Linked DNA regions of Homo sapiens: all the other regions are linked to region 2. Evidence: fine-mapped expression QTL. A gene starts in region 2. Each other region holds a variant in brackets. All regions are shown on one strand. Distances are between the middles of the regions.

Region 1 (11,173 bases), 140 kb before region 2:
ATAACCCAGAGAAATATGTATGATTATCACTATACCTCAACCAGGACTGGGAAACTGGGAGACTCAAAAGAGATAATGTTTTCAGACTATAAAATAATACATTATGGAATTAAGATTTAAAACCAAGTCTTTCTCTCCCCATGTCTTTGTTCTTTCCATGTATTACATTTCCAAAAGCCGAATTCTTTAGTACTTGAAACTACTTAAGGAAAACTACTTAAGGGATACAAGTCTCTAAATTTACTTTGGAAAAATATCAGATTCAGAAATGTTTAAAATGTTTTTAATATTGATTAATAAAGTGATCATTTACAGATGCCAAATGCATGCTTTCTTTGTTATTCATATTATAATTTAAAAGAAAAAAAAAGAAAGCTCTGAATATAATATTCAATTGTAGGTTCCCTATATCTGCTTTCCTTTTCTTTTTTTAAATTCATATTAGCACCACGAACATCCAGAAAATGAACTGATTTGAGATTCTGACATATATAAGTGATGTTGAAACATGGCTCAAAAATTTCACAATTCAGAGAAATGTAGCCCTTGGCAGAAATAAATATTTAAGAAAGAATACAGAAGTTAGAAGAATACAGTCAAACCACAGAATCTTAATACAATAACAAAAACTAGAGAGACCAAAATGAAGCCATTGGTTACGGCAATGTAACTTTCATATCTCTACCTTAAATCCATCATAAAATACCTGTTGAAAACTAAGATAGGGTCAGAAAGAAATACTTCCTTTCTTTTAAAGTGTAAAATATTAATAACTTGGCAGCTACATATGAAGGAAGATGTCCACACAGTGTTTAGCATATTTCATGGAGTTCACTTGACCCACCAAGTTGGAACTTCAGAGTGTTATTAGCAGAATAACAACAAAATTCAATATTTTCAAACACTGTGATGGGTTCCAGTAGAGAGTAGAAATAGGAAACTATTATTTAAAATCTTTTATTTTCTTCAAAATGTAACAGTATTAGATGGAATGGAAAAAAAAGTCCTAAGTTATAAAATTCTTTTATAAAAGAACAATTCTAACTTTCCCTATCTGCCGGTGAAATGATCTCAAAGAAGACTGACCTATAACATAAATGAATGGAGTTACTAAAATGATATTGAAAAAGTATAGTCCTCAGTGATAGGAAAGTATAGTCTATCATTCATAAGCTGAAAGAATAATACCCTTAGCAACGTCAGAGCAAGCCAGGCAACAGGTAAAGGTCTGTTTAATGGGAAATCCCAACTGTGTAATATAAACTATTGGTCAGATGGCAAACTGATCTGGAAAAAAGTTATTTTCATGCTACTCTTCAGATTAATTAAATGCTGAAGAATATTAAAGCAGATAAGCTTGCTGGCATCTGTAAGTGGCAAAAGAATAAAAATCCTGGGCCAATATCCCAGTTTTAGGCATTGCTGCACTTAACATCCATTCTTCAACTCCTCAATAGCTTTGCTGTACAAAAGGGTGTAATAATTCTGTGTTGTCAAAGAATGATTCTTCTCATCTGAACAAATTTGCTGATATCTCAGAGTACATTTATAAATATCTTATTCTTTCTGATTCTTAAAACATTTAATATTCAAACAAGCTCAATTTAGCCAGGAAAAACTTGTACAGGCCAAATATTTTTTTAAAACCACTCAGCATATGGAAAATGAATTTGAGAGAGAGGGTGACAGTTGCTGTGTTTGTAAATTTATCAGCAGCATACAACACAATAAACTATCTAAACCTATGTGCCAAGTTCTCTGATGTGATAAATGACAATCATTTAGTAGAGTCCACCTGAAGATTTTTTTTAAACCAAGAATAAGGCAATAACTTGCATCATCAGTGAAGAAAAAAATGTATGGCAATGTACAGTCTTTCTTTTCTCATTTTTCTTTCATTTATTTATTCATTTATTCCTTTTTTTGTTTTATCTCTCCTTTCATCTCTTATTTTTCTTTATACTTTAAGTCTGAAATAATAGCACATTAAAAGCAGAATGTAGAGGCTTATTTACATAGATCTGCATTTTGGGGAAAAGTTTTGCTACAAAATCAACAAATCATGCAAATCATACATACATATTTTCCCTATATTATTTGCTAGAATCAGGATCTAGGTTATAATTAAAGAAAAAAAAAAGGGGGGGGCGGGCAGGAGGCTCACGCCTGTAATCCCAGCACTTTGGGAGGTCAAGGCGGGCGAATAACGAGGTCAGGAGATCGAGACCATCCTGGCTAACACGGTGAAACCCCGTCTCTACTAAAAATACAAATAATTAGCCAGACGTGGTGGTGGGCGCCTGTAGTCTCAGCTACTCGGGAGGCTGAGGCAGGAGAATGGCCTGAACCCAGGAGGCAGAGCTTGCAGTGAGCCGAGATCGCACCACTGCACTCCAGCCTGGGTGACAGAGCAAGAAAAAAAAAAGACCTCTCAAAAAAAAAAAAAGACCTCAGTAGAGATCATTGAATTGAGTCACTGACAAATCAGCTGGAAACTTAACCTCTCTTAGGACCAAATGTTAATCCTATAATGCCCTCTTGCCTCTGGTTATAACACACTGTTTGGTGAGTTGTTTTAATCCAATGTCAAATCAGTTTAATAAGATGGAATTCTCAAGACAGAGATAATCTAGCATTTACAGGGACCCATGACATTTTTGTTTTTTGCACATGTCCATGGTAGTAGAGGATGGCTTGCAGTGTGTGAGCATAAATTGCAGACACCAAGAGAATATCCTATGTTTTAAAGTGTCTGAAATGGTCTGTTCTTTCTTTACTCCTCAAGGGACAATCTTAAATGCCACCCTTATGCCATATTAGTACAATCACTGCAAAGACTTTTTTTTAGTAGAAGAAATTTACAGACATCAAACTGATAAAGATTTGCTGCAATTCAATTCAATTATTGGCCCAAAAAATAGTCTTAAAACAGTATGCTATTGAATTATTAGAGCAATAATTAAATAACCCCAGATTTTCAATTTTAACACAAATTTTGAAATGCAATTGATGAATTTTTCTTTATGTCACACAATTAACTGTTTCATTAGTTTTGTAACTTTTATGGGGGAGAAAGGCAGAAAATGAGGGGGAAGAAGAATTAAAGCATCATTTGAACATACAAATGGACTTCATGGAATATTCTGAGAGTCCAGAAAGCAAGAACCATGGATTCAAAAAGCCCTCTGCCACAGGAAGGAAAATAGCACTTATCTCGAAGAAGTGAAGTATTTGCAATGCAGAAGCTGAAACAAGATTTCTCCTTTGTCCAACTGCTGGGGTCTCTGGGTCACAGATGGTTGGTGCCAACCAAATATCTATGCGCTATTCTGTATTTCTCACTGCCCCTTCCCCTCTACTATTTAATTTAAAACTATCTAACTACTGCAAGACAACAATGTGTCTTCCAGGCTGGAGCAATTAGAAACTAGTGTGCTTTGTCTACCTACCTCTTTTTTCTCAATAGTAACCTTAGAGTGTTTCATTTTTCCACAAGATAAAGAAGGGCTGCTGAACCATATCAGACTCTAAGCAGGCAGAAAGATACATGTGTATTGGGTTAAGGCACTGAGATTTGTTTTTTGTTTTTTGTTTTTTCTTGCCCCATCTTAGGCTAGCCTAGCCTGATAAATACAGCCTGAATATTTTGAAACAGCTGACACTAATCAGCCAACAAATTTTGATATTTAAAAACTATGGCTTTATTTTCTATAACTTGATTTTTAATAGATTAATGTTATGTTCAAGTTTCTTCCCATCATACTAGACATGTGAGAAACTTTGTCTTTCTTGACTTTGATTACCACTCCATCTACTAGTATTAGGTTGGCACAAAAGTAATCGCGGTTTTTGCCATTGCTTTTAGTTACTTCTACATTACTTTTAATGGCAAAAACTGCAATTGCTTTTGCACCAGCCTAATACTTCTGTCTACCCCTATTCAAGGTCTCTATCAAAGTTACTTGGGGTTATAGAGGGTAAAGGACACTTAGGCTTCGAGTCTTTTATCACCCTATCACAATATCCAACCTCAAAGCCATCATATTCTTTTAGGTCCAGATATCCCATCACTGTTAATTTATTTGTTTGGCCACATTTGGCTCTTCCTCACAGGTAGCTTCTGGACCTCCTGCCACAGCTGTCAGTCATTTGCATACGCCTCTTCTCCCTGCCTCTCCTCCCTCTATTTCTGACTAGGAAAAATCCTTGTCCTTTTATGACTTTGATGGAATCACATTGTCTATTTCCCAAATCCTCTCCTTATTCCACATAAGACTTAAGATTTTGTAAACAAAGATCAAGCCACCTGCTTGAATTTGGGGAATGGCAAAAGGTAGAAATAGCAGCTATGGTCGGCGGAGAGAGGAAGGTGACATGGATTAGGATTTCTGAAAATGTTCTATTGCTGCACAATTTATGATTTCTTTCTTTTTCCTTGTTTTTTAGCGGATATTTATATGTTCAATGCATATATGGCATGGCTTCAGGCATGACATGTCTTTTGAGTATTATTTCTCACCCATGCCTTTCACCAGCTTATAATCTAGCCAAAATAATTATCTCATTGTTTCATAGAAATGCCTTCCAAAAATCACCTCCACATTGACTCGTGTTTCCCCACTTACATCTTGAATGTAGCTATATTCTAAGGCCCAACTAAAGGCCGTTATCTCCTAAAGACTTTTCTGTTGGTAAAAGCAACCCATTTTTGAACAGAGCACTTTGTGTTTTAAGTGTGTGCCAAGTGAGTGACCCCAAGCACTTACTAATCAACCAGTCAGTCCCAAAAGGTGGGTAATGAATATCTGCCCCC[A/G]TGGCACTCAATAAACAGGGCTTTAGTGTTTGGACAGTTCCTACACTATATGAGCATTCAGTAAATAGCAGTCATTAATATGATGATGTTAATAATACCAACTAATATGCTTTACGGTATTTATCTCTCAAATTTTATTGTAGTTAGATTTCATCTTCTGAGCTTCCTCTTGTAGAATTTATACTGTTTTGTTTCGTTTCGTTTTGTTTTTTTGAGATGGAGTTTTGCTCTTATCGCCCAGGCTGGAGTGCGGTGGTGCAGTCTTGGTTCACTGCAACCTCCACCTCCCAAGTGCAAGTGATTCTCCTGCCTCAGCCTCCCAAGTAGCTGGGACTACAGGTGCCTGCCACCACGCCTGGCTAATTTTTGTAGTTTTAGTAGAGATGGGGTTTCACCATGTTGGCCAGGCTGGTCTCGAACTCCTGACCTCAGGGATCCACCCACCTCAGCCTCCCAAAGTGCTGGGATTACAGGTGTGAGCCATCACACCCAGCCAGAATTTATACTCTTTAGGTTTAGATAGACAGATTCTGCCATGACTGTTAACATAGCAATCCATAAATGATGTTTTATTGAATAAATGAATCAATGAGTGAATGAATCAAGAGGATAATTCAATGATGGGGTTAAGCTATGTACTACATTGTGATTTGAAGTAATAGAAATTAGGTCTCTGTCCAGTCCATTGCTCCTGTGAGGTAGCCCCTTCTTTAAAGCATGACTGGCCACCAAAATATTGCATCTTCAATCACTGCATAATTTCATTTGCAACAGAATCTACATTTTTTTTTTGTGAGACCGCCCATCTGACCCTGAGGTATTCAATCTCCATATGCTCTGTGGTATAGGACTGGTCACTGTGAAAGATCTAAGGCTCACAGATGCCCTTCACCTCATTCTGTGAATCCCCTAATATGACCCCAGCAGTCATTTCTTCTCTTACTCCCAAGAACCTTGGCTATCTATAAAGCTCTCAAACTAGCCCCCTACAAGTACGCATATATTTGCAAACTGTCTTCTAAATAGTTTCCTCCTCTTCTGGTTCTATTAGAAACATGACCGTCCACTGAGAAAAATAGCTTTAAAAACTCTTTCAGAGTATTAATTTTTCCTTACTTATACCCCATATAAAACAGGGAGATAATAGAAATATCATTTTATTGCAGTGACCATTTAACACTGGGATGCTTAAAATAAAAGGGGGTACTAAGTATTGTACCAGGCAGAAGGCATTAAACTGACTTTCTCTAGGCATTCATCCACCATTGCAACTTCTAAACTATTTCTCTCCTTCAGCCTTCAACGATTTCAGTTTCTTTGGTGTATGCATCATATTTATGTGTATGTGCGGGCATATTTATATGTATATCATATTTTTACCATCCTTTACCTCTCCTATTTTTTCCTCCTTGAAACTCCCAGTCATTCCCCCACAACGTAATTCATCAAATATTCCATTACTCCTGTCATAATTGCCACACCCTGAATTTCAAGTTATTTGATATTCTTATCTCTATTGATCCTTTTCCTCCATTCCACCTTAACTATCCACTCACATGATCAAAAATTAGACCTAGAATTCATCAATACCACACATTAGCTATAAACATGGACTTTAAACAACCTATTACTTTTTATTCTTTCAGATCACTTACTCTAATATTGCTACTTTAAAAACTATCTTTGTGAGAATTAAAATCCACTGATCACTTCTTCAATATCCATTACCCTGTTCACGTTTGTACTTCCCTTCTTATCTGCACCAGCTCCATGGTTTAGCATTATATCCATTTCCTTGCAAACACACACAACCTCCTTGCCTTTCTTTTTCTTACTGTACATATTTGAAAAATTCCCAACTCAAATTAAATTATGTAAATCTTACTCTGCATCTGTACTCAAGATACTAAATATAACCCTAGAAAACTGAACAATTCTGCTGACTGGTCACCTTAAAATTTATAGCTGAAAATCTCAAATGGACAACCCAATATTTTACAGTCCTACAATAAATCTTTGGTAATTCACACTCTTTATTATGATTATTTCATACTCTCTCCTCTCCTCAAATCTCTCATAATTCTATAACTGACCTTCAGGCAATAACTAAATCTCATAAGGCAAATCTACCCAATATCTCCTTTTTTTCTTTACCAATTACCCTAACCTACCTAACCACATATTTTTCCTTAAGTTAAAATGGAAAAATCCTGCTGACATCTTTAATGCACTATTTTTATTATTATACTTTCTTTTTCTAAATATTGTTAGGTTTTTACCTTATATTCCTAGACACCTCCCAATTTCAGTTGCTAGATTCTTGACTTTTGCACCAGGTATTTATTTGTTTGTTTATTTGTTTGCTTATTTTATTTGTTTATAGACAGGGTCTCATTCTGTCACCCAGGCTGGAGTGCAGTGGCATCCTTATGACTCACTGTAGCCTCAACCTCCTGGGCTCAAGTGATCCTCCCACATCAGCCTCACTAGTAGCTGAGACTACAGGTGCACACCACCACACCTGGCTGTGCACCAGATTTTAAAATATTGAAACACCCATGAGATCTCTTTTTCTGCCTTCTTCTCCACCTACAACTTTCTCCTAAGTTGTCTAATTCAGTCTCATGGTTTCAAATACTACACTTTGAGGACTTTGAAAATTTTATCTCTAATATCTCTCTTTGCTCCAGATTCATACCCATCTCCATATATCACCATATTCATTTTGCATTAATATCATTGAAAACACACTAAGCCAAACAGTATTTACTCTTCTCACCCACCTTGTGTACATTTATATACCACTGCTCTCAAGTCTTCTTCACTGCCATTGAGTCACCTCCCAACCAGTTACTCAACCAGTTATTCAAACTTAGAATCATCCTTGATTATTTTCTTCACACTCTACTTTTCTCCCACCCACCAATAATTCTGTCTCTTTTGTCTTTAAAACATAACGCTTCTCTGACTATATCTCATTATTTCAACCATAAACTCTTGCCCAAAATATAAAAACAAGTTTTCACCTGGTCATTCTCATTATGTTCAACACTCTGTCCATTCCAATGACATCCAGAGTTATTTTTTCCAAGTGCAATTTGGATCTTTTCATTCACCAGGACAAAGACAAGTCTATCCTTCCTATTGCAATTAAATTAAAATTCAAACTCCTCTCACACCTACCTTGCTTACTCTATTTCCCTACACATACCATCTGAGTTACCATGTCCTATCCAAAATGGCAATATTTCTTTCAACTTAGAAGCCAAACTCTTTCCCATATGTCATTATTTTCTCTTCATGTACAATTCTCTATAATTTCCTTTCATAGCTACGTATTTTTCATCATTCAGGTCTCAATTCAAATGTTACCACTTAGAGAGAGAGGCCCTCCCTGACCATCAACTTCTCCCTGTTCACTATCACATTTTCATATTTTGTTTTCTTCATTTAACTTATTAATGTGTTGCTTATCACATGCTTATTTGTTTACCTGTTTATTGCCTTGTTTTTTGTTGTTGTTGTTTTTGTTTTTCGAGACAGAGTCTTGCTCTGTCGCCCAGGCTGGAGTGCAGTGGTACGATCTCAGCTCACTGCAACCTCTGCCTCCTGGGTTCAAGCGATTCTCCTGCCTCAACTTCCCCAGTAGCTGGGACTACAGGCGTTCGCCACCACGCCCAGCTAATTTTTGTATTTTTAGTAGAGACGGGGTTTCACCATATTGGCCAGGATGGTCTTGAACTCCTGACCTCAGGTGATACACCCATCTCGGCCTTGCGAAGTGCTGGGATTACAGGCATGAGCCACCGCACCCAGCCCATTTTTGTATCTTCTATACCTAAAAGAATGTGTGTGATATAGGCAGTACTTTAGAAACTGTTTTTGATATCAACATTTTGTTAACTTTCTGTGAATAATGGTTTCAATTGAAATGTAAGAAAGCTATACTCAAAATAACAACTCTAACAAGAGTGACAACAACAACAACAAAATCCCCTCAATATTCAGACAAGAGAACATGTGGGGAAAGGTTTGAGCTTTTAAGTTAGAATTTTCCTCAATTGAAAACAAATGTAAAAGTAGAAAATGAAAAAACAAATAATATCTAGAAGGCTTATGTATTTTATAGGCATAGGGATCCATGGACAAAGAATTCAGTGTCTCTAATCTTCATCTCTTACCTTCCAGGCATTTAACAAACAGTGTTGTTGTATATATTTTTTGTCAGGTACTGTTCTAGTTGATGAAGTTAAACCGTAGATATAACAGACACAAACCCCTGTCTTTGTGGAACTTCCACTCTTCTTTTTTATTTTTATTTATTTATTTTTTTCAAGATGGGGAGTCTCACTCTGTTGCCCAGGCAGGTTGAAGTGCAGTGTCGCGGTCTCGGCTGCACTCCGTCTCCCAGGATCAAGCAATTCTCCTACCTCAACCTCCTGAGTATTTGGGACTGCAGGCACACACCCCCAGGCCCAGCTAATTTTTTTGTATTTTTTTGTTTGTTTGTTTTTGAGATGGAGTCTCGTTCTGTCACCCAGGCTGGAGTGCAATGGCGTGATCTTGGCTCACTGCAACCTTCACCTCTCGGGTTCAAGTGATGCTCCTGCCTCAGCCTCCTGAGTAGCTGGGACTATATGCGCTCACTACCAGGCCCAGCTAATTCTTGTATTTTTAGTACAGATGGGATTTCACCATGTTGGCCAGGATGGTCTCAATCCCCTGACCTCGTGATCCACCCGCCTAGGCCTCCCAAAGTTCACACTACTTTTGAATATTGTCTGTGGCTGACCAGAATTTAACTTCCTTGACATGAGAAACCTCATCTATTGTGTACACAGCTACATCTCCAGCAACTGGCACAAAATAAGTGCTCAATAAAATTTACTAAAGGTTAAATACACGTTGTTCCAACATGACAATAAAAGAAAGCATATAGACTGCCTAACACAGGGCTTGGTATATATTGTAAATTGACTACACATTGTGATTAAGCTGAATAATAGTGAAACACTCTGTACCGTGTCTTACCTCCTCATCAACTGAATGCAAAATACAACTGAATTTTTTGAGATACGCTATTTCTTTTGCCCTAAAATTATGTCAGTGTCATTAAAATACATTTCTACAACATAAATATGTGAAAATGCTGTTAAAAGATTTTCACAGCTTGCTCTCTAGCAGTATTACTACTGCCTACTTCTACCCACACCTGCCCAAATATCACAGCAGGCCACTTTTAATTAATGCCCAGGGTTAAATGTCAGGTGCAACATCTCACTAATCTGTTATTTAGAGCAGTTGAGACCATGGAACAAATGAACCTCTGCCTTTAGCAGCTCATAAGAAATGCATCCTATACCTCCCCAGAATGGGATGGCTTGGTTCTTTGCCCCCATAAACTGAACCTACTGAGTGACAAATCAGAACTGATGACTTCAAAGTTGGCTAAGTCACTGGCTTTATAGCAGCAAGCACCACAGTGCACATAAAAGAAAGAACTGTTCCCAGACATTACCTACAGTAAAATCCTCTCTGAGTTCTTTTCCGGAAAGAAAGAAAGAAGCAACAAAAAGGATTAACCTAGTTGCATAAAGAGCAGTAAAGGACTCTGGCAATGCAGTTCGCGCTCGTAGGTTCGCATCACCAGTGAACAGAAGGCTTGCTTTACCGCTCCCTCAGGAGCACGTCTCTCATTGAGTCCACATGCTGTGAGTCCAAGGCACTGTTTCTCTCGCTATATTTGGCTGACTGGTTATTTTACTTTCTTTTTGCTCTACTCATCTTATTTTGTATCCCCCTGTGAGGTGAAAACAATCCAGATAGAACTAGACTATCATACAGGACTCGTTACTTAATTTTCTGTTTCTGAATAATTCATAAAGAAAATCTTATCAACTTGCCTTTCCTGTGAGGTTGCCACACATCCAGTTTCCCTCCACACAGTGTCTTCCTTCTAAAAACAAGATAGCTCTGGGTTCTGATACTCCTCTTGAGGGAGGGATGAATGCCAGGCTTGAGGGCTTATTAACAGAAGACTCTACTTTATCCAGGCTGTTCTGCTCAGAGGCTTGCAAACATCCCACACTTACTTCTCCCTCTACTCTACTGCATACCATAACCGGGCTACCCTCCCCTGTCCCATCTGTCAAGTCCTACCAACTCCTTGAGCCTGCCTAGGCACTGTGGCCCACCAGATGCTCTCATTCTTATAGCTCTTACTGTGATTTGTCTAGCTCACTTATTTGTCTTAGTTTCATATTACCACACTGTATTTCTTACCTGCTTATTAGTTTTAAACTCTGCCTTAAGTATCCAAATAGGTATGTCCTCCATCATTATAATAACCTAGTGTATTAG
Region 2 (11,173 bases):
TTTAATGAGACATATATTTTTAAGATCTTAAGTATATTGAAAATTAATGTGTTCTCTGTTTTGGCCACACACACACAAAATGCCATCACAGATCCTTTTAGTCTGGGGATGTTTTTCAGAGGCCTTGCTCAAGGTCTACACTGATCTGTCTATCTACACCATTCTGTTTCACCCCTCTAGAGACTACTCTCATGAATGTTTGTGAGAGAGGTTGGGAGGACAATCTTGGCAGTTTTAAATTCTTGATATGAAGATAAATGACTCATGAGGCATAAACTGATTCCATAAACTGATTCCTCAACAGCATGTTCAGACAAACTCTTTCCATTTTCACCTGCTAAAAAGTAACTGGAGTTGCAAGTAATAACACTGAATGCATGAAGAAAATAATATCCAAAGCAGAAATCATCCCCACTTAATTCGCATGGGATTGCTCTTATTACTATTCTGTCATCTGTGAGAAGAACCAATACTTTTTCCATTCATTTAAAGCAGCCTGTTTCCTAAATATAATTGATAGACTTAAAATTGCTTCCTGATAAAGTAACAACCCGCAATTTTGCACAAGGTTTTAGTTCCCATTACAGTCTAGTTTCATGCAATTGCGGTTGCCACATGGAGTTTCATATTCCACCTTCTTAATTGGCACACCCAATACTTTAAAAGCAATTCTAGCAGCTTCAGGCACTCAAAATTTCCATTTTCATCATTTCATCCAAGGCTTTGATAAGGAAGAATCATCAAAATGAGTGTTAAAATTCATCACTTGGCAAAGTACTACTCCATCACTTATAAAAACATGTTTTTATTATTTATTTATTTTATTTATTTATTTATTTATTTATATTATTTATTATTATTATTTATTTATTATTATTATTATTATTATTCCATTCTTTTCAATTAGCAAATAAAAACTTCAAAAGAAAGCAAAAGAAAGACTAAAGATATTGTCCAGTCTAATATTAAAGGTGTCTCTGACAACTTCAAAATAAACGTTATAAAAACTTTACTGTACTGTTTTTTTTTTACTTCTAAAAAATACTTGAATAATGTCCATTTAAAAAAAAAGCCAGAGAAAGCCCAGGAAAAGGTATATTAATTACATAACACAAGATAACAAAAATAAGTTGTTTAAGTCACTTATTTGAAAGAGAGAGCATCCCTAGAGGAGACAGCTTTGTGATTTGTATCTTCTAAGTTCCTACATTCTAGCCTGAAGTATTTGGATAGACTAAAAGCATAATCTAGGAAAGAAAAGCAACCAATAGAGAATTTTCTTCAAGAAATCAATTAGAGAAAAACGGAATCTGAATTCAGCCAAATTCACCACCAGCTCTTAGCAAAGATTAAAGACAGGAGCATCAAGGCAGGATATAAGAAATTGCTCTAAAGGAAACAGATTTTATCACATACAGCTGGTTAAGGGCTCAAAGCCAACTGCACGTATTAACTGAACTTCTGAATAATTATAATACAACTAACAAATACCAAATATATATTTTTTTATATATTGGCCAAATTCTATCCTTAAGCCGTTCTGACTCTTCAATACCTACACTCTGCATGAAAACCTGCCTAAGCCAATGAGTTCATGAAAGGTTTTCTTTTTTCTATCTTTTTGTTTGTAGTGTATAAAGCTTGCAATAGATTTTAAAGAGCCTGTTCTATCAACTTATAGATTTCAACTAACTCAATACAGATTTCAACTAACCAAAGATAAGCTCTAAAACTAAGTTTATTTCAGTACTTAGCATGAGCTCATTGACGGTGAAATTGGCCATTTATACATAGGCAAATCTATAAGGAAATTAACAATATTTCACATTTCTTCTAATTAATGGTCTTTTTGTGAACATGCACTGCCTACTAATGTCAGCTTATCTATGATTTGAATGTATAGCTTTCTAAAGCGTAGCAATTTTTTTGCATATTTATGTGTCCTAAGAGAGTCCCCCCGCTTCATTTTTCCATCTCTCAGCCTCATGAAAGGCTACCTCTATCTAGAATTTGTGACAGAGGAAGCTGAGTTTTGTGGTTGATTGTATCTTCCTGGTTACAATCTAGAACTATCAGAGTTTTGCAATGATAGTAACAGCAATGACTAACCCTTGCTTGGAATAATAGCCTTTAATCATTATCCTCAGTTTCTATCTGGGAAAACTGAGTGCTATTTTCAAGCAGTCTTCCTGCTAGTAGTGGCAAGAATGGAGACATAAATCCATCCCTTTTGATTCCAAAGTGTTATATATTTTGGCTGTGCATGGTGGCTCACACCTGCAATCCCAGCAATTTAGGAGGCCAAGGTGGGCAGATTACTTGAGGCCAGGAGTTCAAGACCAGCCTGGCCAGCATGGCGAAACCCCGTCTCTACCAAAAGTACAAAAATCAGCCAGGCATGGTGGTGTGCACCTGTAGTCCCATCTACTCAGAAGGCTGAGGCAGGAGAATCACTTGAACCCAGGAAGAGGCGGAGGCTGCAGTGAGCCGAGATTGTACCACTACACTCCATCCTGGGCGACATAACAAGACTCTGTCGGGAAGAAAGAAAGAAAAAGAAAAGAAAAGAAAAAAGAAAAGAAAGAGAAGGGAGGGAGGGAATTAGTGACCAAAAAGAAAATGACATGATCAGTGTTCTTTTAATCACTCACACCTGAGAATCAAATTCATTAACAGTCAACTTGCGCAGACCGTAGCAGGTTTCACCCCAGCCTTAGGGAGTTTATTTTTAAATGCACGGCCTTGTGCATAGTTTTTCCTCGAATATGTATTTCACAAGTCCTTCCCACACCTTCCCTGGTGAGAGAAAGCAATTAAGACTACACAATGGCATGACTTACAGAAAGCAATTTATGAAAGGTAGCCTCACTAATGTTTTGCTTCCAGGCTTTTCGATAGGGTGTTCTTCTTGCCTGGAATGCTTGTTCCTCCTCCACATTCACTTCCCTTTGCCTAACTAATTGCTACTTCTAAGTGACTCATCAGCATTGATCTCATCACGTTCTTCAGAAACCCTTCATTAGTTCCTCAGCACTGGATTCGGTGACCTTCCATGCTCTCCCAAAGCATCCTGACTTCACCCCTACACCAGCCCCACCTTTCTGTATTATCACTTTCCATTGGCTTGTTTATATTCCCCAGGAGCAGGCCATGAGGCCCGTGCTAACATACAAATAATAATATTCATTATGTATGTACTTCCAATCCCTAGCAAAATGCCTGGAATTTAGGATGTTAATAAGTATTATTGAATGAATATCATGTATCATTGCTAATATTTTAAAAAACATATCTACACTAATTTAATGAACATTTTCTACCCACAACTATAGGATATAAAATACAAATTGAAGTATACTGGTTCTTGATTATCTGGCGATCTGACCTCAAGAAAAACATTTAGCTTCTCCAGAGGGTCTTCGTTTATAAAATAAGAATGTTGAAGTAATTATCATCTAAGATCCATTTACAGCTCTGAAGTGCCAATCTTAAATATTACTTCAAGTAGATGAAGATGAAGAAAATTAGCATAATGAAGGAAGGCATTATATAAATTGGATTGTTCTGAGCTTCCTGATGAAATTCTGTCCAATTTTAAAGGAAAAGGAAATAGTTGACTTCAAAAAACTGTTTATAGTTTATCATTGAAAAATAATAGGTCTGCTGGTTTACCTCTGATTTGAAATGTCGTAAATTAATAGGTCTAGAGAGAGCTAACGTCATATTCAGAAATCAACCTTTGCAGACCTTCTGGTTGAAAAAGTATTTAATAAGCATGAAACTCTGGCTGGTTCCTTAATAATATTATTATTAACTATTTTGTCAACATCTGTTAAATGTTGGCTATGTGCTGGATGTGGTTGAGCCTGGAGCTAGGGTGTTACTGTCACTTTTGGGGAAGAGGCCATTTCAGAATTATGAAACCAACATTTTACCACATTTGAGTCATTTGCAATGTGCATTCTCTTACAGCTACCAAAATACTCCTGTGGAAAGAGGGCAACATTGCTTTCTCAAAGTTTTTACAATCTTTTAGATATAACCAAGGCAAGAAAAATTCCATCCTTGTTAATTAGCTAGCAGTGAACATAAGAAATCAGAACATTTAATAAATATTTAAAATGAACGAACAGAAAAATTCTTGAAGGAACATGTTTAAGAAAAAAATAGCCAGATACATGATTTGTAATCTCACTTTTACAAATATATCCAACACTAGTAAATACTCTTCTTTAGTTTTGCTTTGTGCTTTTCTAAGGAGTTTTATGGCCATTAGCTCATGCAACAATCAAGTGGAATAGCTGTTGGAGGGCCTCACTGACATTCCCCTAGGATAATGTATCTGACACTACCCAGAAAGTATTTCCCTTCTTTTTAGGTTTTCCAGCCAGCACTTGAAAAGACTGTATATGACACAGAGCCTACAAGAAAAGGAATGTGGCCACACCCTCTTTAAATGAAAAAAGTAATAAGCGGACCTTCTTATTTTAAATAGCATAAGCAAATATAACATATATTTTTAAATGTTTATTACAAAGAGCATGATTAGCACTTTGAGGTCTGAATCTATCTTGTTTTCCTTACAAAAGAAGAAAATAAATTATGAAAGTCCTACTATTTTGAAACAGTTCCCTGCAGCCCACTCCTATCACTTTTGTTCTTGCCCCCAAAAAGCAGCCCCCATCACGATTTCTCTGTAAAACACACAGCTCTTGGGAAGAAATATTTCAAGGGGAAGGAAAGGAAAAACACATTCTTTTAAGGCTACCAGAGGGAAAGCACATTCTTCCCTTCTTTCTCATGGTAACTTACCAAGAGTACAATGAGCCAGTATTAAGCAAACTTATCTTATTTTTACTTGTATTTGTTAACTAAGTAGAACAAAAATATTGTAATTTGTGATTCCTAAAATATAAATATCCAATGTAATTCTACAGAAAGATTTATGAATGACTTATCATGTTAAATGCAACTAACCATAAATCCTGTAGAAGCAGTAACATTTAACATAGTGATGAGAAAAGTTTTCAAAACAACCAAAACTAACTAAAAGGAAAACCAAGACTTACCTTTATCTCTACCTTCTTGCAAAGAACTAAAGAGAAATTCTTCTCTGAAGATTTCACACTGGCAGTGGAGACTTGGGCTTCTGATTTTATAGGATTTTAAAGGAAGCCACACCTAGCAACCAGAAGTTAGTAATTGGCTGCCTTCTGTTTGAAGTACATGGCTCAGCTATGTCCAAAAACAAAGTGAAACAAGTCTTGCAAAACTACTCACTAAACCAATTCAACTGGCATTACAAAGGAAAAGAAATGGAAGGGCTGATTTTTCCTCCCTCTTTATTTTGCACTTTTATTTCCAGATGGGATATTTATTTTGCACTTTTATTTTCAGAGTATACATCTGCCCCAATCCTAATACCAGTGATTGGCACACTTTTGTAGTTAAATAGGTTGTAGACTAAAAAGTATGTTACCTTCAAAACTAAACAAACCAACAAACAAAATATTACATTTGAATTCCACCTCCATCACTTATTATTCTGTGACTTTAGGGACATACTTAATTTTTCTGAACCTGTTTTTACTTTTGTTTTGTTGTCTTTTTCCCCCGCTTTTTGTGGAGAATGGGGTCTCGTTATATTGCCCAGGCAGGTCTCAAACTCCTGGGCTCAGGCTATCCTCCTGCCTCTGTCTCCCTAAGAGTTGGAATCACAGGCGTGAGCCACCATGCCTAGCTGTTTTTACTTTTGTATATAGGAGCATTATCTAAGTTGTCTACCCACTAGAATTCTTGTGACAATGGAGAAATAACATATATTTGTAAATTTTAACATTACACAGTGCCGAATAATTTTCTATTTATATTTTTCTTGCCTTAAAAAATAAACGACTTTTGTTCCTAGATATAGCTTGTTGTTATAAATAAGAAATATAGAAGTAATAAAGTTCCAGATTGGCTCAAAATTTTGAACAAAGGTAATGCCAAAAATTTGATCATTATGACATTCAATAAAAGCATTGACATCAGAAGGCCTATCTACATTAATTCTTTTAAATAGAGTCAGTTACATAGAACTATATATATAAACTGTAATATAGATCAGTTATATATACATTTTGATACACATCTTTGACATTGTAGACTAGTTGAACACCAAAACAAGGAACTAGACCTATAAAATGAAAGGATTAATGGAGCAGCAACTATTACAGAACACATTCCATAAGAAATTTCCCACCCAATGGAGGAAAATTGGTTCTGGTAACTTCCATAGTGGTTCATTTTCATTCTTCTTTAAACCCTACAAAGTATTATATGATGTTTCCATTAAAGTGCACAGGTGTAAAATCTCACAGCATTATGGCTCAATTTATGCTGCATTTAGTGGTTTGTTCTTTTTCCTCTTTTCCTCATAGATATTTCACATAAAAAACATGAAGTTTAGGAAGTTAATGAAAATACTTTCTAAAGATTGGCAGTATTTTATAATACATTCTAAGTGCTCGATGCCAATATCAATGAAGTCAACATATCCTGAAGTAGGATGATCATCTAATCTAAATATTTAAGAAAATGTCAATATATGTTTTTACTATCATATGTGTAAGTTGAAAATTAATTAGTTACCTGCTAACAAGTTAAGTTAATTGATATTATTGCAAATTGATCTTGACAGATGTAGACTAACTTTCTAATACCATATTTATGTCATCAGGTGAGAAGGAATAAGATGATTATACAAAATCTGGTTTTCTTTTTTTCTTTAATTTGCGTTTGTATTCCTAACTCTGGTAATGGAACTATTGGAACATTCCTGCACAGTGATGCTCTTGTGAAATGAAGAAAAAATTCCACTTACTTTTTATAAAATATAACAACCTAGAAAACATGTATAGTCTCATTTTGCTTTGTTGCTGCTATTACCAGTGCCATAAACTGAATGGAATTATTTTATATGTTTGGATTTGTAATACATAGGCAAACCTAAAATAGCAACAATAAATATGATAATTGTAGCAGAATTAAGAAAAAAAAAGTGAAAAGAATGTTTTTCCAAAATTAACTTCCAGCTGTAACACTAAAGGCAAGTGAAACTCCCAAACATAACACAAAAAGAAAGCCACTAATCATGTAGGTATATTGCTGTGAATAATCTGTCAGAATCTTTTTCTCCGCATAATAATAATGTCGAGTAGATTTATGGAAATAAAAGAACAAGTAAAATATGTTATCATTAACAGTGAGGGGATAATCATGGGTTAAATGCTTTCTGTGGGTGAAATGCCACATACTCCAGAGAAATGACTCACCACTCTTGCTGTTTCTAGAAGATGATGATTCATCGGCTCCACTTACTTTACAAACAGAGAAAATAAAGAAAGAGAAGGAAAGAAAAAAGACAGTTAAAATCAATCTCTATATGTTACGTTTTTCACAGCATGTTTATTTTCACTCATTTGGTTTAGAATCTGATAGTGAAGAGGAAACAAAACAAAACAAGGAGAGGAAATATGGAGTCTCTCACATACATCTCATTGTGCATAAGACTCTTGCAAAATATCTGATCTTAGTAAGCTGTCCCCTCATCCTTTACATTTAACTCTATCTAAGCATTACTTGTTATATGGAAGAAAGAGTATATTCTGAATGATCAAGAACAGCATTTCACAGATATTCCAAAATCTCCCCACAGCTTCCTCATACCCCCTATCCACAGCCAACAAAAATCATTATTTTAGTGTGTGTTTCTCATGTGTCCCCAGGTCAAAGCATTTTGAGGGCTAACATTCTAAATGTTTTCCCTTTGCCTCTAAACATGGCAAATAATTATCACACACACACTGAGTTATTGAGATTATTATTATTATTATTCCTCAGTTATTCACATGAATTAAAGACAGAATTTTTTTTCAAATTTTACTCTTTCAGGTTAATGAAGTAGTCATGTGGGTAGCTAGAGCCAAAGGGAGGTACCTTTGTTGGACTTCACTTAGGGAAAAAGATCTTACCTCCCTGCCTCTCTATATTTCCTTTTGTGGGTGGAAAATCTTAGAGAAGATAAAAACTCAAATTTGGTGGTGGCTTAGTATCTATTACTGTGTGACTTAGGAAAAGTCAGCGAATGACTTGGTGATTCAACTAGTATACTTCCAACATCAGGATCATGCTAGGATTAGTAATTTTGTATTGCACAAGTTATTTTGTTTAATCCCTGAGTATAGTATCCATATCCCTCTCTATATTATTCGAAAGTAAGAGAATAAGACCTTGTCACATTCGCTATAATAACAAATTTTACTTCAATAATTTTCAAGAAGTTTTGCAGAAGGAAAATGAAGATATGTGTTAAGGTCAAAAGGTCAAACTCTGCTTTCTAGGTTCCAGCTGTTTTAAAATAGTCTGGCAGTTTCTTACAAAGATAAACAGAGTCTTACAATGCAATCCAGCAATTGTGCTCCTAGATATTTACCCAAATGAGTTAGGAAACATGTTTACACAAAAACCTGCACATGTATGCTTATAGCAGTTTATTCATAATTACCAGAAATTGGAAGCAGCTGAGATATTTTTCAAGAGGTAAGTGAATACATGGACTATAGTACGTTTATGTAATGGACTATTACTCAATGATAAAAAGAAATGCTTTTAAACCAGGAAAAGAAATGAAGGAATCATAAATGAGTATCGCTAAGTAAAGGAAGACAGTATGAAAAGGCTATGTCTGTTTCATTCCAATGAGATGCATTCTGGAGAAGGCAAACTATAGAGAAAGTAAAAAGATCAATGGTTGCCAGGAGTTGGTGGCAGGGAGGAGTAATAAATAAGAGACTTTTAGGGAAGTGGGCTGGGCATGGTGGCTCACACCTGTAATCCCAGCACTTTGGGAGGCCGAGGCGGCGGATCATCAGGTCAGGAGTTCAAGACCAGCCTGACCAACATGATGAAACCCCATCTACTAAAATACAAAAAAAAATTAGCTGGGCGTGGTGGTGCACGCCTGTGGTCCCAGCTACTCAGAAGGCTGAGGCAGGAGAATCACTTGAACCTGGGAAGCAGAGGTTAAAGTGAGCCAAGATTGCCCCATTGTATTCCAGCCTAGGCAACAGAGCGAGACTATGTCTCAAAAAAAAAAAAAAAAAAAAGAGATTTTTAGGGAAGTGAAACTATTCTGTATGATACTGTAATGGTGTATGCATACATTATGGATTTGGCAAAACACATAGAAATGTATAACATGAAGAGTAGGCCCTAATGTAAACTATGGCAATTAGCTAATAATAATGTATCAATATTGGTTCACCAATATAACAAATGGACCACATCAATCCAAAATATTAGTAACAGGGGAAACTAAGAGCAGCGGGAAATTGAGTATATGAGAATTCTCTGTACTTTCTGCTCAATTTTTCTGTAAACCTAAAATTTCTCTAAAAACTAGAGTCTATTATGAAAAAAAGGAACTTCATTTGATTATATACTTTCTAAGATATACCAGGACCATATAATTTCTAATATAATAATTCAAAAATTCTTATGTAATCAGAACACAAAAAATACAGCAAGTCTTCACATAATCATTGCCAACTCCATGGATTTATGACACGAACCAAAGATTAATATCCTTAAATTTAATAATGACTTTTTTTCAATTTCTATTTTAACTCAATAGGTTTAAAAAGTGATTTAAAACAATTCTTTAAACTAGCATAGTTAAACAAAAACTGGATCTTTATACTATCTTAAAAAATAAAAAAACATGGATCTGGATGGATCTGGAATTAAAATGGGAGTAAATATATAAAACAAACAATAAACTTTACAAGATATTCTGTAAATATCTTGTAGCTAAATTTGTAATGAAAGTTTTCCAGACCAAGCCACAATAAATGTTTGCTTTGCATTGGTTGGGGTGATTTTGGTTAACTTTATCATAAATAGATTATTATCCAATAGAAAAATGAAATTTTCTTTCAAAGAGAAACTTGATAAATCCTAAATCTCATTTTCTCATTTACAAGTCAAATATGGTTATACTTTGTTAAAAGTAACTTGCAAAAGATCACTATTCAGGATAATCTATTCTGAGAATAACATTTATAATCTCTGTGGTGGGAGACTAATCTGTGGCTTAAAACCTGTTATTATAAAAGAAATGAGAGGTGTTTTTAATATAGGCAAATAAAAATCCTCAAGTGGAAAAAATAAGCAAAATCAGTAGATTCTTACAAAAACTTCATATTTCCTTACATGCACTAACAAAGTGTTACTATCTACAGTGTACCAGGAGCTCTTATCAATTGTAAAGCAAGCAATCCAAACAACAAAAATGGATGAAACCTGAGTACAGTCAAATGCCTCCGAGTCAGCAGATATGCAAATCCAAATTGCCAAACAAACAGTAAAAGTTGTTCAAATTTACACTGGTGAGGGAAATACTGTTTAAAGAAATGACAGTATATGGATATATACCCATCAGGGTGGTGATGACCTCAAATTTTCTGTAACACCTTTACCAGCAATAAATGGTATTAGAAAAGGATACACTCATATATTGCTGGTGCTTGTTTGCTTGTTGGTTTGAAAGTCATTTGGCAGCAACTATTAAAATAAAAAACACACAGAATAAGATAATTAAGAGGGGCAGAAAGCAAGCCAAGATAATGTAATCCTGATGACGCAACTGCAGGTGAAAGTGTCAGGAAGAAAGCTGTGAAAAACATTGCAAAAGGATACAAAATGGTCACTTAGAAAGAGGCTCCAAAAGGAAGTCATTTAGAAATGGCTCTTGTACTTGGAAATTAAGAAAGAGGTGGTGGCCTTAAGGATAAGGGGTTTTGGAAACACAGTGGAGAGAAATTGGTTTGAGAAGACCATAGGAGCTGAGGATATGGAGTTAAGTGTAGGCAACTCTTAGACATACACGCTTTCACTAAATGGTGGAAAACCGAAAGAGAGTAACAAGATATTAATTGTGAGGTAGCATTGGGAAATCTGAACGTGTTCTCAGGTAGACCATGAGGAGCTATAGAAGAAGAGTGAAGCCACAGGAAACAAACAAACTAACAAAAAACAGCATAGTTGATGAAATAAGCTTCCAGAATATTTGGGAGAACAGGTGAACCAGTACAAGGAAAGAGTTACTAGCCTTTGAGATGAGGGCCATTCC
Region 3 (11,173 bases), 100 kb before region 2:
AAACAGTTTTTTTGAGTGAGAATACCATTTACATTTCTACCACCAATATAGAAGTGATCCAGTTCCTTTGCCTTCTCTCCAGCATTTGTTGTCACTGTTCATAATTTTAGCCATGTTGATAGGTATTTAGTGATATCTCATTATGGTTTTAATTGACATTTCCTTAATAACTAGTGATGTTGACCATCTTTTCACATATTTGTTTGCCATCTGTATGCACTCCTATTTGAAATGTCCCTTTATATCTGTTACCCACATTCTAATTGGATTCTTTGCTTTTTAATTGTGAGTTTTGAGTGTTCTTTGTGTATTCTAGACACTAGTCCTTTGCAAATATTTTCTCCCATTCTATAGCTTGTCTTTCTATTATATTAACTGGGTCTTTTACAGATCAAAATCATTCAAATTTGATATAGTTAAACTTAGCAAGTTTTTAAGTGAATCCTACTTTTAGTGTCAAATCTATAAATTATTTGGCCCCAAATTGTAAAAATTTTCCTCTGTTGTTTTTTCCCCTTAAGAGTTCTATGGTTTAAATTTTACATTTTAGTAGTGGCCTATTTAGCTAATTTTTGCATAAGATATAATAGTTAGGTCCAGGTTTATAATTTTATTTTTGCCTGTAGATATTCAATTGCTCCAGTACTAGCTGTTGAAAAGGCTATATTTCCTGTACTGAACTGCTTTTGCAACTTAGTCAAAAATCATACAGATGTTGTATATATATGTGTGGGTCTATTTTGGATTCTTTACTGTGTTCTATTGAACTATGTGTGTATCCCTCCAGCAATACCACAAAATTTTGATTACTGTAGATACATAATTTTGATATATTTTTTCAATTTATTCTTCTTTTTCAAAATTGTTTTTAGCTATTCTAGTTTCATATAAATTTTAAGATAGTTCTGTCTATATTTACAAAATTATCTCCCTGAAATTTTGATAAGTATTTTAAACCTGTACATCAAATTAGGAAATATTGACAGCTTTATTACATTAAGTCTTCCAATCCGTGAACATGATTTATCTATTCATTTACTTATCTCTTTGATTTCTTCCATCATCACTGTGTTATTTTCAGCAGACTAGCACTATAGATGTTTGGTTAGATTTACTCCTAAGTATTTTTTTCAGTAATTATAAATGGAATTGTAGTATTAATGTTGGTGCCTACGTGGTTATGGCCAGTATATATACATATAATTGATTAATGTATGTTTATCTCGTGTCCTGCAAACTCGATGAATTCATGTATTAGATCTGAAAGATCTTTTATAGACTTCCTTGGAATTTTCTATGTAGACAAATATGTCATCTGCAAATAGAGACAGTTGTACTTACTTCTTTTCTGTATTTACTTCTCTTGCCTGTTTAAAACTTTCACCTTGATGTTAAATAAGAGTGGTGAGAGCAGACATGCTTGTCTTGCTCTGGTCATAGGAGAAATGCATTTGATTTTTCACTATCAAGTATAATATTAGCTGTGGGTTTTCTGTATATGTTCTTTATCAAGTTGAGGAATTTTAACTCTATTCCAATTTTTCTGTGCATTTTTATAACATGGGTATTGAATTTTGTCAAGTGCTATTAGTACATTGATTGATGTGATAATAAGATTGTTCTTGAGCCTCTTATTGAATCAGCTTTATATTCCTTTAACAACCCCACTTGGTCATATTATATAATCTTTTTATATGTTGTTGAAATCTATTTACTAATATTTTGTTAGGAATTTTATGTTTATATTCAGGAAGGATATCTGCCTGTAATTTTATTTCATACTGTATTTGCTTAGTTTTAGAATCAGACTAATAATGGCTGTATTAGTCCATTCTCATGCTACTAACAAAGACATACCCGAGATTGGATAATTTATAAAGGAAAGAGGTTTAATGAACTAGCAGTTCCATGTGGCGGGGGAGGCCTCACAATCATGGCAGAAAATGAAGGAAGAGTAAAGAGCTTTGTCTTACATGGTGGGAGGCAAGAGACATTTGCAGGGGTACTCCCCTTTATAAAACCATCAGATCTTGTGAGACTTTTTCACTATCACAAGAACAGGAAAACCTGCCCCCACAATTCAATTACCTCCCTCCAGGTCCCTCCCATGACACATGAGGATTATTATAATTCAAGGTGAGATTTGGGTGTGGACACAGAGGCAAACCATATCATTCTGCTCCCAGCCGCTCCCAAATCTCATGTCCTCACATTTCAAAACCAATCATGCCTTCCAACAGTCCCCCAAAGTCTCAACTCGTTCCAGCATTAACCCAAAAGTCCAAGTCTCATCTGAGACAAGGCAAGTCCCTTCCACCTATGAGACTGTAAAATCAAAAGCAAGTTAATTACTTCCTAGATAGAATGGAGGTTAAGGCATTGGGTAAATACACCCATTCCAAATGGGAGAAATTGGCCAAAACAAAGGGGCTACAGGCCCCGTGCAAGTCCATAATCCAGGAGGGCAGTCAAACCTTAAAGCTCCAAAATGATCTTCTTTGACTCCATGTCTCACATCCAGGTCACACTGATGCAAGAGGTGGGTTCCCATGGTCTTGGGCAGCTATGCCTCTGTGGCTTTGCAGGGTGCAGCCCCCTTCCTGAATGCTTTCACAGGCTGGCATTGAGTGTCTGTGGCTTTTCTAGGCACACAGTGCAAGCTGTCTGTGGCTTTACCATTCTGGGATCTGGAGGATGGTGGTCCTCTTCTCACAGCTCCACTAGGCAGTGCCCCAGTGGGGACTCTGTGTAGAGGCTGGCACCCAACAGTTCCCTTCTGTACTTCCCAAACAGAGGTTCTCCATGAGGGCTCTGCCCTTGCAGCACCCCTCTGCCTGGACATGCAGGCATTTCAATACATCCTTTGAAATCCAGGCAGAGGTTCTCAAACTTCAATTGTTGACTTCTCTGATTTGCAGGCCCAACACCATGTGTAAGTCACCAAAGCATGGAGCTTGCAACTTCTGAAGCAATGGCCTGAGCTCTATGTTGGCCCCTTTTAGCCACAGATGGGGTGCAGGTCAACAAGTCTCAAGACTGCACAAAGCAGCAAGGCTCTGTGCCCAACCCAAAAAACCATTGTTTCCTCCTAGGCTTCCAGACCTGTGATAGGAGGGGCTGCCATGAACACCTCTGATATGCCCTGGAGACATTTTCCCCATTGTCTTGGCAATTGGCATTTAGCTCCTCAATACTTATGCAAATTTCTGCAGCTGGCTTGAATTTCTCCTCAGAAAATGGGGTTTTCCTTTCTTTCTCGTCTTCAGCCTGCAAATTTTCTGAATGTTTATGCTCTGCTTTCCTTTTAAACATAAGTTCCAATTCCAAACCATATCTTTGGGAATACATAAAACTGAATGCTTTTAACAGTACACAAGTCACATCTTGAGTGTTTCATTGCTTAGAAATTTCTTCCACCAGATGCTCTAAATTATCTCTCTCAAGTTCAAAGTTCCACAAATCTCTAGGGCAGGGGCAAAGTGATACCAGTCTCTTTGCTAAAGCATAACAAGAGTTACCTTTGCTCCAGTTCTCAACAAGTTCCTCATCTCCATCTGAGACCACCTCAGCTTGGAATTTACTGTTCACGTCACTCAACATTTTGGTCAAAGCCATTCAACAAGTCTCCAGAAAGTTCCAAACTTTCCTTCATCTTCCTGTCTTCTGAGCACTCCACGTCTCTAGGAAGTTCCAAATCTACTCACAGTTTTCTATCTTCTTCTGAGCCCTCTAAACTGTTCCAACTTCTGCCTGTTACCCAGTTCCACATTTTCAGGTATCTTTATAGCAACTCCCCACTACCCAGTACCAATTTACTGTATTAGTCCATCCTCATGCTATTAATAAAGGCATACCTGAGACTGGGTGCTTTATAAAGGAAAGAGGTATAATAAACTCACAATTCCACATGGCTCAGGAGGCCTCACAATCATGGCAAAAGATGAAGGAAGAGCAAAAAGATGTCTTACATGGCAGCTGACCTGAGACATGTGCACGGGGATTCTCCTTTATAAAACCATCAGATTTCATGAAACTTATACTGTATCACAAGAACAGCATGGGAAAAACCCACATCCATAACTTAATTACCTCCCACTGGGTCCACACCATGACACATGGGCATTATTGCAATACAAAGTGAGATTTGGGGCCAGGCGTGGTGGCTCATGCCTGTTGTCCCAGCATTTTGGGAGGCCAGGGTGGGCGGATCACGAGGTCAAGAAATCGAGACCATCCTGGCCCACATGGTGAAACCCCATCTTTACTAAAAATACAAAAATTAGCCAGTCGTGGTGGTGGGCACCTGTAGTCCCAGCTACTTGGGAGGTTGAGGCAGGAGAATCGCTTGAACTGGGGAGGTGGAGGTTGCAGTGAGACGAGATTGCACCACTGCACACCAGCCTGGCGACATTGTGAGACTCCAGCTCAAAAAAAAAAAAAAAGTGAGATTTGTGTGTGAACACAGAGCCAAACCACATCAATAGCTTCATAAAATAGATAAGTAAGTGTTCACTCTTCTTTTTTTCTGAAAGATATTGTGTATAATTGATGTTGTTTTAAAAAAATTTGACAGAATTCTCCAATGTAACCCTGTGGGTTTGGAGGTTTCTTTTTGAAAATTATTAATGACAAATTTTGACAATTTTACTGATCTTTTCAAAGAACTAATTCTGTGTTTCATTGATTTTTTCTATTCTGTTTTCCATTTTATTGATTTCTGTTGTTTATTGTTGTCTTCATTCTGCTTACTTTGGGATAATTTTTTTTTCCCTTCCAGGTTCTTGAGGTAGGAGCTTAGGTTATTGGTTTCAAACTTTTCCTCTTTTCCCATGTATGCATTTAGGGCTATAATTTCGCCTTTTAGCACAGTTTTAGCTGT[A/G]TCTCACAAATTTTGTTATATTGTATTTTCATTTTCATTCAATTCAATGAATTTTTAAAATTCTCTTGACTTTTGTTTGACCCCATGCATTATTTATAAATGTGTTCCCAAGTGTTTGGAAACTTTTCTGTAATTTTCCTGTTTTTGATTTGTATTTTAATTCCATTGTATCAGAGAATATATTCTGTATAAATTCAATTGTTCTAAAGTTGTTGGGGTTGGTTTTATGACCCAGAGTATGGTTTATGTTGGTATAGTTATGATTTGAAAATAATGTGTAGTTGGCTGGGTGCGGTGGCTCATGCTTGTAATCCCAGCACTTCGGGAGGCCAAGGCGGTTGGATCACCTGAGGTCAGGAGTTCAAGACCAGCCTGGCCAAAATGGTGAAACCTTGTCTCTACTAAAAATACAAAAATTAGCCAGGGGTGGTGGCAGGTGCCTGTAATCCCAGCTACTCGGGAGACTAAGGTAGGAGAATCGCTTGAACCCGGGAAGTGGAGGTTGCGATGAGCTGAGATCATACCACTGCACTCTAGTCAGGGCAACAGAGTGACAGTCCATCTCAAAAAAAAAAAAAAGAAAAGAAAAGAAAATACAGTGTTCCATAAATGTCAATTAGATTTTATTGGTGGAGCCCTTCTATATCTTTGTTGAAATTCTCTTTACTTATTCCATGAATTGCTGAGAGAGTAGTGTTCATGTCTGTAACTATATCTATGTATGTGTCTATTTATCCTTTCAGTTTGATCAATTTTTGCTTCACCTATTTTGCTGATCTGTCTTTGGTGTACATACATTTAGAATTTCTGTCTTTTTGATGGATTTAAACTTTTCTTGTTATTAATCTCCTTCTCTATCTTTAATAATTTTATTTTCTCCGAAGTCTACTTCATATAATATCAATATAGTCACTCTCTCTTTCCTTTTATTAAAATTTTTGTAAGATATATTTTCAATCCTTTTACTTTCAACAGCTTATATTGTTGTATTTCAAGTTAATTTCTTATGGGCAACATTTAGTTAGGTTGTATTTGTAAATACCCTCTGTTAATCTCTGTCTTTTGATTGCTATGTTTATACCATTTAAATTTAATATAATTACTGATACCTTAGAGTTAAATCAGCTATTTTATTTTTGTTTTCTGTTTGTTCTCTCTGCTTTTCATTTATGTCTTCTTTTTCCTCCCTTTCTGTGGAAACCCACAACACATATAAAACATATAAATCATCATATAAAACATTTTTTACAATTTCCCTTTTCTTTATCTATAGTGTTTTGACTGTGTCTCTTTGTATAGCTGTCTTAGTGGTTGCACTAGTTATTATGTTGTTACATATCTGTAACTTACCACAGTCTACTCGTGTTCTCATTTTACCAGTCCTAGTGAAGTATAGAAAGATTACTTCCCTTTACATCTCTTTATTCTCCCCCATTTATAATTGTCTTAGATATTTCTTCTACAAATATTTAGAACAACATTGGTGTTTTAATTTTTGCTTCAACCATCAAGCATAATTTAGAACACTCAAGAGAAGAGCCTATTGTATTTACCCATATTTTTTGTTTACTGTATTGGTCTTTCTTCCTGATGTCACAAGCTTTATTCTTTTGTTATTTCCTATACTTTTAGAAATTTTATTTAGCCATTCCTGTAGGGTAAATCTCCTGGCAACATATTTTCTTATGTTTCCTTCATCTAGGAATGTGTTGATTTCTCCTTCATTTCTGAAGGATATTTTCTCAAGATATAGAATCTCAATTTTTATTTTTTATGTTGGGATGCCTGTGTTTATATTATTGAGTTTTAAGAGTTCTTTTTATATGCTGGTTACACATCCTCTGTCAGGTATAAGTATATCAAATATTTTCTCATAATCTATGACTTGCTTTTTAAAACAGTCTTACTGGTGATTTTTTGAAGAACAAAGTATTTTGCTTTTGATAAAGTGCTTTTTTTTTATTATTTGGGCTTTCTGTTCAAGGCTAATATATTATTACCACTCTAAGCCCATGAAGATTTTTTTCTCGAATATTTTAAACTTTCCTTTAGGTTTAGATATCATATACCTCATGTATATGAGATGTTTTTTTTAGTGTATGAGTCAAATTGAGGTTGAGGTTCTATATTTTCTTTATTCCTATCTACTTGATTCATCACCATTTGCTAAAGTTGTTTCCCTTTTTCTGTTGAATTGTTTTAGAGCCCATGACAAAAAATAATTTGACTTTGTATGTGTGAGTCTATATCAGGATCCACAATTGTTTTCAATTGATCTATTCATCTATCATATTGCTAGTGTCATACTCTTGATTTCCATAGCTGTATAGTATGTATGGCAGTCAGGTAGGGTAAGTCCTCCAACTGTTCTAAGACATTTTCATTTTGATATATATTTGAACACAGCAAATTGCCTTTTTTTAAAGCCAAATATAATTTTGGTTAGGATTGTGTTGAATATAAAGATAGATTTGTGGCGAATTTACATTTTAATAACTTTAACAATACTGAGCCTTATAATCCATAAATATAGCATCTCTTTTATTTTCTTTCCAATTGCTTATTGTTGTTGGTTAGAAATACAATTTATCTTTGTATATTTTCTTTGCATCCTGTGACATTGCAAAGTTCACTTTTTTATTCTTTATGACTTTTTTTTTACAAAAAACAATAGAAAACAATTTTAATTATGCACATATACATGGAGTCCCACAAAGACATGAGCTCCCTCCTTATAACTTTCTAGGCATATGTTATATTATCTTCAAATAGAGATTTTATTATTTATTCTTTTCTAAATGTATGCCTTTTTTTTTTTTTTTTTACTTACTACATTAAGAGCTCCAGTACAATGTTGACTAGAAGTGGTAGAAATGCACATCTTTATCTTTTCCTTATTTTGGGATATAATGCTCATTCCTTCTTCATGAGTAAAATATATTTAATGTTGATTTCTCACAGACTTTATTTGCCTAGAAGAAAAAAGTTCTCTTTTGTCCCCAGTTTGTGGAGCGTTTTTATTATGAACAGGTGCTGAATTTTTAAGTGCTTTTCCAGAATCTACTTAATTAAATATAATTTTTCTTCTTTAATGTGTTAATGTGTGAGTTCCACTGTGATTTCCATATAATAAACCAACTTGCCATTCCTGGGATTGCCACTGCCACATGGTCAGGATTATTTAACATCTCTAGATATTGCCAAATCCAATTTGACAATGTTTGGTTATGGGCTTTTGTGTCTATGCTCACAATGAATATTAGTCTTTAATTTTCTTTGCATATAATATCCTTTCCTAGATTTGGTGTCAGAGTTATATTGGCCTCATGAAATGACTTGGAAAGTATCTTCATTCCACTATTCCATGAAAGAGTTTGTGTGATATTGGCAATTTTAGTTTATTAAATGTTTGATAAAATTTCTGATGAGCTACTTTGGATATGAATATTTTTATGGGAATTTATTTAATTACAAATTCTATTTAATCAATAGATGTAAGGCTACTTAAAATTTCTATGTTTGTGGTGAAAGAACATACTGTTTATGATGGTCCCCCATTTATTTCATTAAAAGGTAATTTATGTTCCTTGAAATTTACAATTTTAAGTGTAAAATTTTGGAATTTGACAAACTTCTGTAGTCATATAAACACCATCAAAATCAAGATACAGAGCAAGGGTCATCAAACTATGACTGTGGGCCAAATATTGTCTAAGGGCTGTTTTTGTATGGTCACTCAGCTAAGAATTTTTTTATTTTAATAAAGGGTTGTGAAATAAAAACAAATAAACAAAAGCAAGCAAGAGTATGTAATACAAACTTATATGGCCCTAAAAATATTTATTATCATGTCCGTTACAAGGAAATGTCAGCTGCCACTATAAATTTTTAGCCTTGTGATTGCTTTGAAGCTCAAGAAATGAATTTTTAAATGCTACATATATGCTATAGTTTAAGAGTCAAAATTCATTTGTTCTACATCGTTCTTGTGAGGAGTAAAAAGAATAACTGCCTCCTGGGCTTATAAAGTGTTTCCCAGGAAAGCAGGAAGTTAGGATGGAGAGTTTTTGGTTTTTCAGTCAACTAAGATGGGATTAAATCATTTACTGAGTATGTTTCTTTAGACAAATTGTTTTACCTCTCTGTGCCTTATCTTCTTTGTCAGTATAATAGAAACAAAAATTCCAAACTAAATAGGTTGTTTTGAGATTTAGATGAGATAATATATACAAAGATGTACCTCAATGAAACCTATTTGTCAGATGTTTGCAATTCCCTCTCTACTTCATCACAACTACTAAACAAGGAGTTTACACACACACAGACACACACACACACACACACACATCGTTTTGTAAAAAGGGAGCTGGTGGTTTGAGTTTTTTGTTAGTTTGCTTGTTGAGATGTTTGTTTGCTTTGTTGCCCAGGCCTAGTGCAGTGGTGCCATCTCATTGCAACCTCCTCCTCCTGGGCTCGAGTAATCCTCCCACCTCAGCCTCTAGAGTAGCTGGATCTACAGGCACATGCCACCACACCCGGCAAATTTTTTGTGTCTTCTCTAGAGATGGGGTTTCACCATGTTGCCCAGGCTGGTCTCAAACTCCTGGGCTCAAGGGATCTGCCCACCTCGGCCTCCCAAAGTGCTGGGATTACAGGTGTGAGCCTGCCACCACACCGAGCCTGCTGGTTTTAATGCACAGCTCTACCCTGTGAAACTGGAAATGTATGGCTTTGTGCCAAATTTTCTAATTTGCACAAAAAATATATGTTTAGCTTTTCAGAAACTCTGTCAGGATTCATTAGCTTTCTGCAGAAAAATAGACCTTTGGAGACTAAAAGAAAAGAAAAATAAAGTTTTATGAGACAATCTATTAGTCAAGGTATTGGAGAAAACAGAGAAGATTTTGGAATTATCTTTAGCTGTCATTTACATTTTCCTGAGCCTTAAATCTGAGTTTCTCTAATAATCATAAGCCCGATATATTTTGTTTTAAAAATAAAACAAGAAAAAACTCAAATTATACCAAATCTGTGCTCACAGCCAGGATATATCCTTTTGGACTATAGTCTGTTTTAACTCACTGATGCAGAATGTTTTGGCACAGGAAATATTTAATCTAAAAAGTAGGGCCTTTCACAAGAACGCCTCTTGTAAACAGGGAGACCAACTGGGCATTAATGTGAATATTGTTGTTGGCAAGATCTTTTGACCTGATGGATAGAGGTGACATATACATTCTGTGTCTTTCAGCAGGAACACCCCTTGGAGCAATAACACCCAAATACCTGAAATGTGAAGATGACAAGCATGAGTATCCTCTCCTTTTGTGCCTGAATTTCCTGCTTTAATCAGAAAAAAATACTTTTAAAAAGTGCAGGCAATGGTGAGGTTAATTTCTTGTTTAAAATATTTTAATTATCACACTGCAATGATGGAAATAAATCTGTTCACTCTAGCAAGTATATAACATTATCACAAAAAGCCAAAGGAAAAGGAAATGCGTAAGAGAGAAAGGGGATGAGAGAGAAGCAGGACACAAAAATTACAGTGCAGGGAACAAGAGCAAAACGAAAAAATACCACACTAGCAGTTAAACTGACCCCAGAGGTAGATATTCACATTCACTCTGAGTTAACTGTTTTCTGTCTTCAGAGTTCACAGTGCAAGATCATGCTAAAAGACTAACCAAGAAGGAGTGGAGGGAAGATTTGAAGTCCAGGTGACTTGAGACCAAGTTCTGATTGGAGAACTTAGGTGTCCGTAGCCAAGTTATTTAAACTTTTCTGCTCCTCAGTTCCAACTTTCTCAAAATGAGTAGATAACGATTACTGTATCTCACCTGAATATTATGAAAAGTCTGTACGATAAAATATGATGATGGTTATACAATGATAATGTAAACTTCTTAATAATACAAATGTTAGTAACTGTTATTTACATGTATTCAATAGTCAACTTTGGAGTAATCACCCTATTGATTCAGCACACACTGAATTCCACAACAAAGCAAATTATTTACACTCTGCATGCCCTAATTTTTAAATAAAATATTGTGGGTTTTTGTATTATTACAACTTTTCACAATAAAATTTCTGCTTCACATAATTTATTGATCAAAGTTCTAACTCACCTGCAATTCAGCATATTCTTCTATCCCTTGCTAACTCCTAGAGTTTGACATATTTTACAGGATTAATTCTTCTCATAGGAATACTACAAAAGAGCTACCTAATAAGATGTTTTAAAAATTCTAATTTGAAGCTAAATAGATAAAGTTTTAAGAATATCAGCTT

The links. PIP is the estimated chance that this variant, and not a neighbour inherited with it, causes the effect.
Region 1: its variant is fine-mapped to the expression of ANXA1 in whole blood (TOPMed, PIP above 0.99).
Region 3: its variant is fine-mapped to the expression of ANXA1 in whole blood (INTERVAL, PIP 0.95).

Annotation. Positions count from the first base shown.
Region 1 is chr9:73,283,873-73,295,045 of GRCh38, reverse strand. All of the region lies in intron 1 of LOC101927281 (a long non-coding RNA gene), which reads right to left. Among named protein-coding and RNA genes, the nearest start is that of ANXA1, 140 kb to the right of the region's middle. The variant A/G (reference allele first, on the strand shown) is at 4,814.
Region 2 is chr9:73,145,821-73,156,993 of GRCh38, reverse strand. It overlaps ANXA1 (annexin A1), which reads right to left and starts at 5,129. Exons shown (of 13, transcript NM_000700.3): 1 at 5,070-5,129. RefSeq lists a silencer at 2,847-3,141 and a cis regulatory region at 7,171-7,421.
Region 3 is chr9:73,246,767-73,257,939 of GRCh38, reverse strand. LOC105376082 (a long non-coding RNA gene) reads left to right here. Exons shown (of 5, transcript XR_929931.2): 2 at 10,131-10,263. Among named protein-coding and RNA genes, the nearest start is that of ANXA1, 100 kb to the right of the region's middle. The variant A/G (reference allele first, on the strand shown) is at 4,880.